Regions from separate parts of the Homo sapiens genome. Here all the other regions are reported to be linked to region 1. The links are microRNA targets in miRTarBase. Many come from high-throughput screens and were not tested one by one. Region 1 holds a microRNA gene; each other region holds the end of a gene's coding sequence.

Region 1 (3,000 bases):
CTGCCAATCAGAATTCTGGTATATACTCATACCATTACTCAACTTGTAGTACTGCTCCCCACCTTAGTTCTTCACAACTAACATAGAAAATTGTTGAAAAGTAGGGGCAAGCATTTGCAAAAACAAACAAAAAATCCCCAGCTTATTATAAGCATGAATATGTATGATGGAATTTCTTCCCAGCAATAGACTTCCAAACCATCAAGAAATCACCAGAACTAAGTTTGCCAAGTTATTTTGCCTATGTCCAACAAGAGATGCACTTATATGTCCAACAGAGGAGCTGAAAATTAAACTTAGTGTTTAGTTTGGGGGTGGGTTGGGAAATTCAGCCACCATTTTAAAATGACTGTCTTAAAAAAAAAATGACCACCAAAAATAGGTTCACTAAATTTATTTTAAAAATCATAAAACGTTTCTTACAAAAGAGCATTACATTCTGCACACTGCTCTGAACAGATGCCAGGGACATGTGGACTATTGTTACTTTTCCTCCCTGTCCCACCCCCCAAATGTTACAGTGACCACAAAGCAAGGTGTTCACAATAATTACATGGGGGGAATTTTTTAAACCACCAACAATAACGAAAAATAAAATCCACTCACTCTGCTGCTGTTTCAAAATTTCAATGTTAGTTTTTGCACGCCCTTCCCCCCCCCAACCCTGTTTGTAAGGAACTAAAACATTACATCTGGTGAACAGCAAAGATTTCACTACACCTCAAATGCAGAACACCTATGAAGCAGAGGAATGTTGGCTTTTTAAACAGAAGCAGATAAAAAAAAAAAGATGCAGGACTCCTTCAGTTCTTCACTAGTCTTAGAAAAACTTTCCAGAATACTGCTTCACACTATAAAAAAGAAAAAATATCTTGCATTAGAATCCTTCAACATCTGCATACTGCTTCACACTATAAAAGAAAAGAAAAAAAAGTGCGAATTAGAATTTTTGCTCGTAACATCTTAATCAACATCAAGACAATTTCAATGCTAAATTAAAATGATAAACACGTCCATTACAATTAGAAGAGTTCAAAAACCATTAGCAATTACAAATTAAAGCAATGTTAAGTGTCAAGAAAAATGATGAGTAGTAAATCGGACATTAGTAGAACAGAATTAAGAAAACGGAATTGAAAGTTGTTAATATTTGGTAGAAAAGACAAAGAATGCTAGTAAGGTGTGAAATGCTGCATTTTACAGCACCAATCATTTGTCCTGTAGAGGCATGGCCTGTGCCATATGGCAGACTGTGATTTGTTGTCGATTTAGTTATCTAAAAACAACAAAATCACTAGTCTTCCACACAGAACTAGGCCAACATCCAATGAATCTTCTATATTTTCTACAGGCTCTGTACAATTTTTAACAAGTGGTTTTGGCAGCAGTTTTCACCAGAGAAATGAGAAGTTTGCTTGGTTAAGGCTTCTTCCAGCAAGATTAGTATTGAATGTCTTCATTTTTAGTAAGAAAGCAGAAGAAAAATTAAGGCAAACTATTAGAATGTTTAGAAGTTAGGTCCCCAAAAGGTTGAGACACCATGGCTTCTAAAAGAAAAAAATCAATTGAGAAGAAAAGCTTTTTAAAGGTTTTAGTATGTATAAGCTAACACAAAGCTAAACTTAAACTGACCTGTTCTGCAGCAAATACTGTGCATTCTGTATCTGGTCCTGTGTTCCTGTAATGGTAATGATCCGATCTTCGGATCCTTCTAAAGGCTCATCAATTTTGATCGAAGCTCCCGACTCATGACGGATTTGTTTAATCCGCTGACCACCTTTGCCAATAATAGATCCAGCCAACTGAAAAGATTTTTTAAAAGTATGTGTTTACGATATACTTTTAACATTTACTACCTGTATTTTCAAGGAGCATGAAGTTATTAATTTTATTCATTCAGAATCTTAACTGATGATCTAACGCTCCCTAAACCTGTCAAGGTTTGAGTTATAATGTATTTATGTCACACTTACTAATGTTTCCCTTAGTTAGTTAAGGGCTCAAAACCTACTTAACTACTTTTATTAATAGCACTGATCACTTGACAAGACTCAAACAGCTGAAAACCCAGCTCACTAAAGCCCATTAACATAACCTCAATCCTAAATGTGTATTTTTGTTAAAACCTTCTGAATTAAAAAATATACAGAAAGGAGGAATAATCATAAAAGTGATAAAATGTTCCTGGTAGTATTAAAGATACTTACATCTTTGGGAATAGTTACTTGTGTAGTAATAATAGGTCCACCAAGATCACCATATGAGCCACGACCCCCTGCATAGGAATAATCTGATTTAAATAATGAGCAGTAAGTTCATTTAAAAAGTATGAAATTAATGTTTGACTTCACAAAGGAGAGAACTTACCATATCCGGAGCCACCCTAAAAACAGAAAGAAAAAAATAGAAAATTACTTTGCCGTTGTAATTACTACCGGTACTTTAAAAAAATTCATTTAATAAAATGGAGTCTTGCTATGTTGCCCAGGCTGGTCTCAAACTCTCGGGCTCAAGTGATCCTCCTGCCTCAGACTCTTTTGTAGTTGGGATTATGAGTGAGCACCACTGCACCCAGCTTCACTATTCAAGTATTTTAATCTCATAAAATCCCTCTTCAGGAAACCAAAGTCCTCCTGTATCCTATTTTCAGTAAGTATCCTCAGGGGAATAAAAAACTTACTGGAGAGCAGGTAAGCATCTTAAATTATCACTGATATACACACGAACAACTATGATACTCAACCTGTGGTTCATAAGCCATCTGCCATTCTGATGGGCTCCATGTATCTATTGCAGAGTCCCAAGTTTCATCAGCACTGAAACCAACCTGTTAGAGATAAAAACATTAACATGAACCCGCATTGTATTTTGTTATAGAGCTGTTTTTAATATGCCTAATTTGCATGTTACATTAAAACAAAAGAGGGTACATATATAGGCAGCAATTTTGTAATCGAGGGGAACAAAGCTCAATAAAGTCGTAATCCTCCAGCAGCAAAT
Region 2 (3,185 bases), not on the chromosome of region 1:
TGCACGTCCTGGCATTCAGTTTCTTTCCCTGTCAAGTTGTTGTCATAATACCCTCCTTGGAGGCTTTTTGGGAGAGTTCAGTGAGAGAGACTGTGTCACGCTCCACACGGAGTACCTGAACATAACAAGTGTAGCTACTGGACCTTCTTTTTGGTTAACGTGAATTAAGAATTAGCTCTCTACAAAAAAATATAAAAATTAGCTGGGCGTGGTGGCACACACCTGTAGGTCCAGCTACTTAGGAGGCTGAGGTGGGAGGATCGCTTGAGCCTGGGAGGTAGAGATTGCAGTGATCCAAGATCACACCACTGCACTCCAGCCTGGGTGACAGTAAGACCCTGTCTCAAAAAAAAAAAAAAAAAAAAAAAAAAAAAAGAATTAGCTGAGAACTTGGACTTGGAGTCTCAGCATTTTTATTTTTTTCCTTTCTGGTTAACAAGCGACCCTCAGTCCCTGTTCCATCTCTCTCCCCTCCCGAGTCAGGCTACAACAGGTGCCCTGTGGCCCCACCGCACCAGGGCCTGCACCCCATCCACCAGCGCCACATCACTATGCCCACAAGCGTCCCCCAGCAGCAGGTCTTTGGCCTGGCGGAACCCAAGAGGAAGTCCTCGCTCTTCTGGCACACCTTCAACAGGCTCACCCCCTTCCGGAAATGAAAACAGGAGGCTGTGCTTCCATGGAGCTGGGTGTCAAGAGAAGAACTGTCTTTGTTTCTTGTGTGCTTCAATCCAGGGAAAGTTTCTTGGACCCAGTGATAAAAACTTCCTTTTAGGGATCAATGAAGGAGAGAAGGTCTTGGAATCACCTTCAGTCTTTGGAGACCCAGCTGCCTTTGTGGAAGGGAGGAGACGGTCATGACACAAAGCTTTATCCTACACAGAAACACCCGTGACCCACTATGAGATGGCCCAGATGTGGGACCCGGTACCATGCTCTAAAGCGAGTGATTAGGCAGCAGCTGAAGCCACCCCTGCTGATGATGAGCAAGTGCCTGCTGCAGGTCCAAACACAGCATCCAGGGCTTTGCAGTTCCTAAGGAGTGATGAGGTTAGAGGATCACTTCTGCATTTGATTTTCAAGGATGCCGTCAAGACGGGGTTGACACAATGCTGCACGTGTCTGGTCACACTTAGAAATTGAGCTCTTACTCTCTTCTGTAATACTGGGGGACCTACAGCTGCCGTGGGGCTGACCACGGTGTTCCCTGGCATCGTCTGTGTCCACACAGATGCTAACTGGTAGTGCAAATGTCATCCTGCAAGGTTCCTCTTCCTGCAAGCAAAGTGGAGAGAAAGAAGATGCATCTGTCACCTTCATCAGGGTCCTCAGTGCAGAGCAACTTACGCATCCTCAAGAATCCACTGCTTTTCAGGCAAGGAGGGAGAAATCCTGCTGCACACTGGCTTTGTCCCGGAGTCGGATTCCCTCCTGCCTGCACGCCTTCAGTAACTCCGAGCAGAAATCACATCTTGCCCACATGCTGTAACCTAAGAAACTGCTATGCAAGGCTGGGTGCTGTGGCTCATGCCTGTAATCCCAGCACTTTGGGAGGCCAAGGCAGGTGGATCACCTGAGGTCAGGAGTTCGAGACAAGCGTGGCCAATATGGCAAAGCCCAGTCTCTACTAATAATACAAAAATTAGCTGGGCATGGTGGCGCATGCCTGTAATCCCAGCTACTGGGAAGGCTGAGGTAGGAGAATCTTTTGAATCTGGGAAGCGGAGGTTGCAGTGAGCTGAGATCGCACCACTGCACTCCAGCCTGGGAGATACAGCGAGACTGTCTCCAAAAACAAAAACAAAAACAAAAAACATTCAAACAACTGTTTGCAATATAAAAAGCTCATTTACTGTAATATTTATGATACAGTGAATATGAAAATGCACTGGTCAGAAGGCACTCTCAAAGAGCCGCACTGCTCCTGACATCGTCCTTAGCAATGAAGTCACAAAGACAGCCAAAGCAGTCCTGCTTCTTGGAAATCAGAAGCTGCCTTTATCACATATAAAGCCAAACAGGGCATAACCATGTCACGTGAGCATGTCATCAGGCTTCTGAGGACTTGTTCTTTATAAAAAAAGACCTTCACAAAATATCTTGGCTTAGAGATAGCAGTCTTTATTAACAAAGGCCACCTAGGCTGACACCTGCAGATAATCATCTCCTTTTCTTTGTCTATGTTGTACATTTTCATGATATAACTTTTAACTATGTCTAGAGAAGGCAGGCTCTGCAAGAGAGGTGCCCTTTCAACCCGCTCAGTGCCCTGGACAGGAGATGCTGTGTTAAACTGTTAATGGATATCTATATGAGAAGCTCATTTTTGTATGCTATCCCTGCAGTTTTTTTTTTTCTAACAGGCCCATGTTTGAGAATAAACAAGTCTGTGATGTCAGAGACAAAGGTGTATTCTTCAGTCTGCAGGTGTGTGGCACCTCCCTTCTCCCCTGCAGCCCCCCACATCCAGAGCCGTTCCTGAGAGTGACATCATGCATCAAGAAAACATAACCTTGGTCCTCAGGTGAACCCTTGGAACATTCTGTGACCGCCTGATGTCCATTCTGAGCCACCTTGGCACACATGCTTACAGGCAGCACTGCTAAGGGTTCAGGTGCCCCATGGCTGACAGCCCGAGTTGCTTCTGTGGACCATCATGCCGCTCGGCACGTCCTGAGACAGAAGTTGCTGCAGGAAGGAGCTTCTGGAGAGGTCCTGTGGCATGTGTGGGGGTGTGTGTGTGTATGTTTCCTTCTTGAACAGACATTCCAACTTTAGATGTGTTTATAGAACTGACCTTTTTACTAACAAAATACAATGATATATGTTGGAAACTACTTAATATGCTTTTCCTGCACACCTTAGCAATAACTGTAGGGGTCTCTGCTAGAGTTGTTTGTATGTACAGCAATTTTGAACAAATTGTTTTAAATGTAATATAAGAGAATTAGTTTAAGGAAGTAAAGAGAATCATTTGCTTGTGTTACATTTTCAGTGAGGATTCAGTTTAAGAGTCATTCTTAGGACTTCCATTTCCTAATATTTATTCATGGGTAATGAAGAAATGGTTTGCATTTTGTGGCCAGTCCTAATTTATTTTCCAGCTGAGCCCTAACTTCCGGCTCCCACCTACCTCCACGGACTTCCTAACAGAGACTTATGAATACCAGGATGTGTTTTTGTTA
Region 3 (3,153 bases), not on the chromosome of region 1:
TTGCCGTCGGGGCGTCGCTCCTCTTCCTCAACATCTTAGCTTTTGCGGCGCTGTACTACAAAAAGGACAAGAGGCGCCATGAGACTCACAGGCGCCCCAGTCCCCAGAGAAACACCACAAATGATATCGCTCACATCCAGAACGAAGAGATCATGTCTCTGCAGATGAAGCAGCTGGAACACGATCACGAGTGTGAGTCGCTGCAGGCACACGACACACTGAGGCTCACCTGCCCGCCAGACTACACCCTCACGCTGCGCCGGTCGCCAGATGACATCCCACTTATGACGCCAAACACCATCACCATGATTCCAAACACACTGACGGGGATGCAGCCTTTGCACACTTTTAACACCTTCAGTGGAGGACAAAACAGTACAAATTTACCCCACGGACATTCCACCACTAGAGTATAGCTTTGCCCTATTTCCCTTCCTATCCCTCTGCCCTACCCGCTCAGCAACATAGAAGAGGGAAGGAAAGAGAGAAGGAAAGAGAGAGAGAAAGAAAGTCTCCAGACCAGGAATGTTTTTGTCCCACTGACTTAAGACAAAAATGCAAAAAGGCAGTCATCCCATCCCGGCAGACCCTTATCGTTGGTGTTTTCCAGTATTACAAGATCAACTTCTGACCCTGTGAAATGTGAGAAGTACACATTTCTGTTAAAATAACTGCTTTAAGATCTCTACCACTCCAATCGATGTTTAGTGTGATAGGACATCACCATTTCAAGGCCCCGGGTGTTTCCAACGTCATGGAAGCAGCTGACACTTCTGAAACTCAGCCAAGGACACTTGATATTTTTTAATTACAATGGAAGTTTAAACATTTCTTTCTGTGCCACACAATGGATGGCTCTCCTTAAGTGAAGAAAGAGTCAATGAGATTTTGCCCAGCACATGGAGCTGTAATCCAGAGAGAAGGAAACGTAGAAATTTATTATTAAAAGAATGGACTGTGCAGCGAAATCTGTACGGTTCTGTGCAAAGAGGTGTTTTGCCAGCCTGAACTATATTTAAGAGACTTTGTAAAAAAGAAAAATGTATATAGCTGTGAGTTTAAACAAAAACCACAAACAGACAAACAAGAAAAAAAGCTTTTATTGGTGTTTTCACTTTGAAAGAGCTTTTAGCAAGGTTGTGCTTTTCATTGTGCTCTGTACGTATATAAATATATATATATATACACACACACACACACATTAGTCATATCACCTCTGTTTCCTCCCCAACAAAAGAGGCTTTTCTTCTTAATTACTTGTGGTAAACAAAGACATGGGATTTTCTTACATGAGATTCTCATTTGTAGGAGGATGTGATGTCCCACAGAAGACCCAGACGGTCTGTGTGGCCTATTTCCCCCGTCAGGTTGCACAGGTGCATGCAAGAGCATTCTTAGGAGACCACTGTTTTGAAAAACTTTTGACTTGTACGTGTTAGCCTTCATGAAATTGCAGTACAGAGATGGGTCCCCAAAGTGGAGTGTATTTACAGCTTGTTAAATTAGAGACATGCACACACAAAGAATCAGTAGGGAGAAACAAAAATACAAGTCCCGTTCTGTAGCTCTGGCCCTTTGAATATGTTTAGGAAGAGTTGCTTCCCATTTCAGGGCCCTGCCAAAAAAAGAAGAAAGCTTGCCTTTGGTGGGGCTATGCCCCTTGGAGTAAATACGGCTCTGTGTTCCCTAGCAGCTGCGGGAGGGTTTGGCCGATGAAGTACCTGCTCAGCTTAGCTAATCAGATTGAAGGAAGACATGTGTCTTTCCTTTTTGTTTAAGCACTCGGTCCCTTATTTATCAGTAAGCAGGTTTTTAAAAATCTTTTATATCATTTATGGGATCAAACATATGATTGTCTGAAAACATCACTTTTTGTGGATTTGTGTATCCGGTCACCAAACGGTGAATATTATAGAAGAATGGGGGAAGAAAGGATAGAATATTAAAACTGCTTTGCATGGGTTTTCTGGGAAATTAGGATAACTTCACTGAGAAGACATTGAATGGAAATTATTCACCCATTTTAAATTGGTGACCTAGGGATCAGAGATTTGTCTTTCCAACAGCTTGTCATTTTTTCATTTCTCTTCTCATTTTTCAGGAAAGTTTTGAGTGTTATAAGGTGGAAGGAAACATAGTAGCAATGGATACTTTTTTGAAAAATTATTGCATTACCAAGAAACAGTAGCCAAAGATATTTGAAGATCATGTTCCTCGGCTCCATTGTGGGTTATTCTAGAAATCCAGTCTTAAATCTCTCCGCTAAAGTGGACATTCCCCATAAAAATTGTCCAGCTGCCTGGCTCTTTTGCAATAACAACCTTTGATTACTGAATCCCTACACTCAAACTATAGTGATATATCAGTGTTTGAGAGTGACCTCTAGAAAAAAGAAAAGTGTTTTTAGAAATGCGTACAAGTCACCCCCAAATCCTATTGCTTATCTTGGGTTAAATTTGAGAGTGATTCTCTGTATATAAATATGTGAAATATTATTATCTCAACTTAGCACACGTGAAGCAACATTTCTTTCCTACAGAGAGGTGTCATGGTAAGATTTCATTCCGAATTCATTGTTTCATAGAGCTATGATCAGGCCATTTCTGCAAGCAATGTATGACCCCACCTGAGCAACCACAAATAGGCTCTCTGTGAAACTACAAAGGAAGTTATGTGTGGCATCCATGTTGGTTTCGTCTGTCTGTAATGTGAATTCCAGTATTTGTTTAGTATTTCCAGTTGTCTCCTGCTAGCAATATGTACAGTAACGCGTCAGGCTTGTGACATTTGAATAAGGAAAAACAGAGTTCCTGTTAAGTGAATAACTTTAGCTTTTACAGGGGATTATGATCAAAAGTGATTTTAGTACATCTTAAATGATATCTTATTTCTACATGGAAAGAAGTTATAGAATCTTCATAGAGTTCTATGAGAAAAAATATACTTGCTATCTATAAAAAAGAGAAAAAAGAAAAAAAATGAGAAAAAAGTAAGAAAAAAAAAAATCCTGTCCTAGGCTTTTACTCTTGATCTTCAAAGGCACGCAGGGTTTAATGGTTCCTTGGGTTATTATTTTGCAGTTTTGTTTTTTATTTTGCCTTAAGTAATGATAGAAGATATATATGGCCGGACACATATGTATAAACTTTTCAG
Region 4 (3,185 bases), not on the chromosome of region 1:
GAAATCGATTTGTGCGTTTAAGTATATGTGCTCATCAAAACAGGCCAGGCTCTGCTGCAGTAACAAACTTACAAGTCTCCGAGGCTTGGCACAACGGAAGTCTTTGTGTCACTGACGCCCACTTCAGCTTTGTGTTGCTGAAGCATTCTTTGGCCCTATCCAAGCTGTCCCTCTGGTGGTGGTGCCTGGGGGTTTGGGTTCCCTCTGTGTTGTGATCCACCATCTCAGCATCGGCTTCCACAGCAGCCATAGCAGGAGAAGAAAATGCTGGGGGCTCTCAGGGTGCTTTTAAGGGCCTGGCCACCGACCTGCAAGGGGTGCGAGTTGCCTTCCTGTGTGGCCAGAACTGATGATAAACTGTAGACTCATCCCTGCTGAAACTCGGCTCCAGAGTGCTCCCAAGGCTGGACAGCGTGTGGGCACTGGATCCCACCTGTGTTAGCACTGGCAATTGTATTCTCATTTCTTCTTTTATTCTCCAGGTGGCAAATGGTAGGATCCAAAGCCTTGAGGCCACCATTGAGAAGCTCCTGAGCAGTGAGAGCAAGCTGAAGCAGGCCATGCTTACCTTAGAACTGGAGCGGTCGGCCCTGCTGCAGACGGTGGAGGAGCTGCGGCGGCGGAGCGCAGAGCCCAGCGACCGGGAGCCTGAGTGCACGCAGCCCGAGCCCACGGGCGACTGACAGCTCTGCAGGAGAGATTGCAACACCATCCCACACTGTCCAGGCCTTAACTGAGAGGGACAGAAGACGCTGGAAGGAGAGAAGGAAGCGGGAAGTGTGCTTCTCAGGGAGGAAACCGGCTTGCCAGCAAGTAGATTCTTACGAACTCCAACTTGCAATTCAGGGGGCATGTCCCAGTGTTTTTTTTGTTGTTTTTAGATACTAAATCGTCCCTTCTCCAGTCCTGATTACTGTACACAGTAGCTTTAGATGGCGTGGACGTGAATAAATGCAACTTATGTTTTCTTGTTGGTTCCTTTTTGAGTGTCACTGTGTTTGTAAAGAGCATTCACAATACGGTGGAATTTCAAAAGCTGGAAGAGCTCGAGATCATGCCTCAGGCAAAGGCGTGGGTCCATCGTTCTTCCGAGAGGGTTTGTGTGGCGACTACACCCTCAGCGTCCCTGGCAAGGTGCAGTTGGCTCTCGCCCATTCTTGTTATGGAAACCTAAGATGATCATTGGGAAGATCAGTGATCTTGGGTCATTGATCCCTGGCTCAGAGGATAGCGGTTTCCATCATAAACCAAGATGATGAGTTCAGCCTTTATCCCTCGTGGTTCCACTAGATGTAACTTAAAGGAGTTAACATTTGAGGACTTTGTTCTACATCAGATTTTACTATTTGAATGTTTAAGATCACTTTATTGAATTTGAAGATCATCAAATTAAATAAAATGATTTATTTAATTTGGATATCCTGATCACTGTCAAGTGAAATGGATCTCTCTCTTTGGTATTTAAGGAAGTTTGTCTTTAAAAAAAAAATAGAGTGTTTTCATACATTTTTGCTTATCCCATAAGTACAGTTGATCAAAGTCATAGTAGGTAAATGCTTTATGGGACAGCTGACACCTTTTAGACCCTACCAGGTATTGCTAGCATGTGAGCTGCAGTTGTGGGGTCTGAGATATTTCTTTGTGGTAGTTTCATACCCATACTATAGAGTCATGTATTTATTTTTGCCTGTTGTGTGATGTAATGCAATCATGTTCCTTTGAGTCTCCATCCCTTGGAAATCTGACTTCTTGCAGAAGGAGTAGGCACATCAAGATATTCAGGGGTGCCCCAAGAGTCTGGGACTTTCAAAAAAAAAAGATCAGGCTGAAACTGCAGTCAGATTTATGACAGCTGACAGTTTTTCAGAGGTCGCACACAGTGACTCTCCTCTCTCAGGATGACGAGGACCTGTGCCTTCAACAAGCAAAATGCTGCTCACGGTTGTCCTGCTTGCAGCCAGTCACTGTGTAAAGCCTCTCTGATGTGCACTTAAGAGTGGGTTGCTTTCTCACAAAGATGGGGTTCTGTGCAGTCACAGGTCACTTCCTTGACAACACAATCATTTCTGATCTTTATCACTGTAACCACGTCTTCTATTCCATAGGAGTTTCTTTTGATTCTCTCAGTTGCGGGGGGCATCTCTTAATCCTGGGGTAAAAGGAGAGATTGCCATACTTAGACTCACTGTGAGTCTCCCCGGCCATTTCACGAGGAGACCACAGTGCTGCCACCAGTGCCTAAACAGGTGGCTGGCATTCGAGACTTCCTCCTGTTCCCTGGGTCAGAGGATAGCGGTTTCCATCATAAACCAAGATGATGAGTTCAGCCTTTATCCCTCGTGGTTCCGCTAGATGTAACTTATAGGAGTTAACATTTGAGGACTTTGTTCTGCATCAGATCTTACTATTTGAATGTTTACTGTTGGATTTTGGGCATCTTATTACTGTTACTCAAAAACATTGACTCTGCATCAAGAAAGAAACAAGAAAGCAATAAAACAAGAAATAATTCATGCTCACATTTTTATGGTGGTTTTTTTTTTTTTTTTAACTTTGGATTTTTGCTTTTCAGCCCAGGAGTAAAGGAATGCCTTATGAACACCTGTGGCCTACGTGTGGTCATGACCCAACCATCAGTGAGATTATTTGAGATATTGGTGTCTGCATCCAGTGTTGTTATCTGAGTGTTTATTACGTAAGTTGTAACACCTCTACACAGGGTGTGAGTTTAGCACTGATGAGACCAGCTCCATCATTGTATGTGGCAGTGAGTCCTGTTACGAGATTGGGTTGGGCAGAAAGGACTGTTGACATGAGCCTGTGGATGTAGGTTGGACAGTCTCAGCCTGTGACTGACTAGGCAAGGAGCGGAGAGGCAACTGTGTGAGGATTCTCAGAGCCAAATTTTTAAGCCATGTTTTGGGTTATATTTCCCCCAACACTCATTTGTGCACTTGGTGGTGTCAATCTTTAGATGCCATTTATGTCTCTTAAGACATTATGAGGCCTCAAGAAGTGTACTACTACCTGGAACAGGATGGGACTCTCTTCAGCTTGCACACTCGGTTCGGCTCCCTCTCAGGGGTGGCCTGTAGATAGAACAACAATGTCCATTTGGAGGTTTGTGTGTCTGGTTTGGTAAACAGGAGAAGAGTTGCTCCAAGTGCCATGGGATCCTGGATTTT

What was found. The annotated mature microRNA hsa-miR-7-1-3p reads CAACAAAUCACAGUCUGCCAUA and lies in region 1 at 1,242-1,263, opposite strand. An mRNA with a match to its seed (bases 2 to 7 or 8) in the 3' UTR can be bound and repressed. Matches are read on the target gene's strand: a 7mer-m8 pairs with bases 2 to 8, a 7mer-A1 pairs with bases 2 to 7 and ends in A, and an 8mer does both.
Region 2: the mRNA of SPATA13 is a reported target of hsa-miR-7-1-3p. Seed matches in the 3' UTR shown: 7mer-A1 at 3,179-3,185.
Region 3: miRTarBase lists NLGN4X as a target of hsa-miR-7-1-3p. Seed matches in the 3' UTR shown: 7mer-m8 at 2,721-2,727.
Region 4: miRTarBase lists TBC1D1 as a target of hsa-miR-7-1-3p. The part of its 3' UTR that is shown has no 7-base or 8-base seed match.

Annotation. Positions count from the first base shown.
Region 1 is chr9:83,968,530-83,971,529 of GRCh38, forward strand. It overlaps MIR7-1 (microRNA 7-1), which reads right to left and starts at 1,328; the gene lies at 1,219-1,328. It overlaps HNRNPK (heterogeneous nuclear ribonucleoprotein K), which reads right to left. Exons shown (of 17, transcript NM_031263.4): 13 at 2,744-2,827; 14 at 2,368-2,383; 15 at 2,208-2,290; 16 at 1,633-1,802; 17 at 1-911. The coding sequence ends at 878.
Region 2 is chr13:24,302,115-24,305,299 of GRCh38, forward strand. It overlaps SPATA13 (spermatogenesis associated 13), which reads left to right. Exons shown (of 13, transcript NM_001166271.3): 13 at 484-3,185. The coding sequence ends at 659. Among named protein-coding and RNA genes, the nearest start is that of C1QTNF9, 5.9 kb to the right of the region's middle.
Region 3 is chrX:5,890,080-5,893,232 of GRCh38, reverse strand. NLGN4X (neuroligin 4 X-linked) reads left to right here. Exons shown (of 6, transcript NM_181332.3): 6 at 1-3,153. The coding sequence ends at 416. Among named protein-coding and RNA genes, the nearest start is that of LINC03070, 170 kb to the right of the region's middle.
Region 4 is chr4:38,136,653-38,139,837 of GRCh38, forward strand. It overlaps TBC1D1 (TBC1 domain family member 1), which reads left to right. Exons shown (of 22, transcript NM_001396959.1): 22 at 483-2,521. The coding sequence ends at 683. Among named protein-coding and RNA genes, the nearest start is that of PTTG2, 180 kb to the left of the region's middle.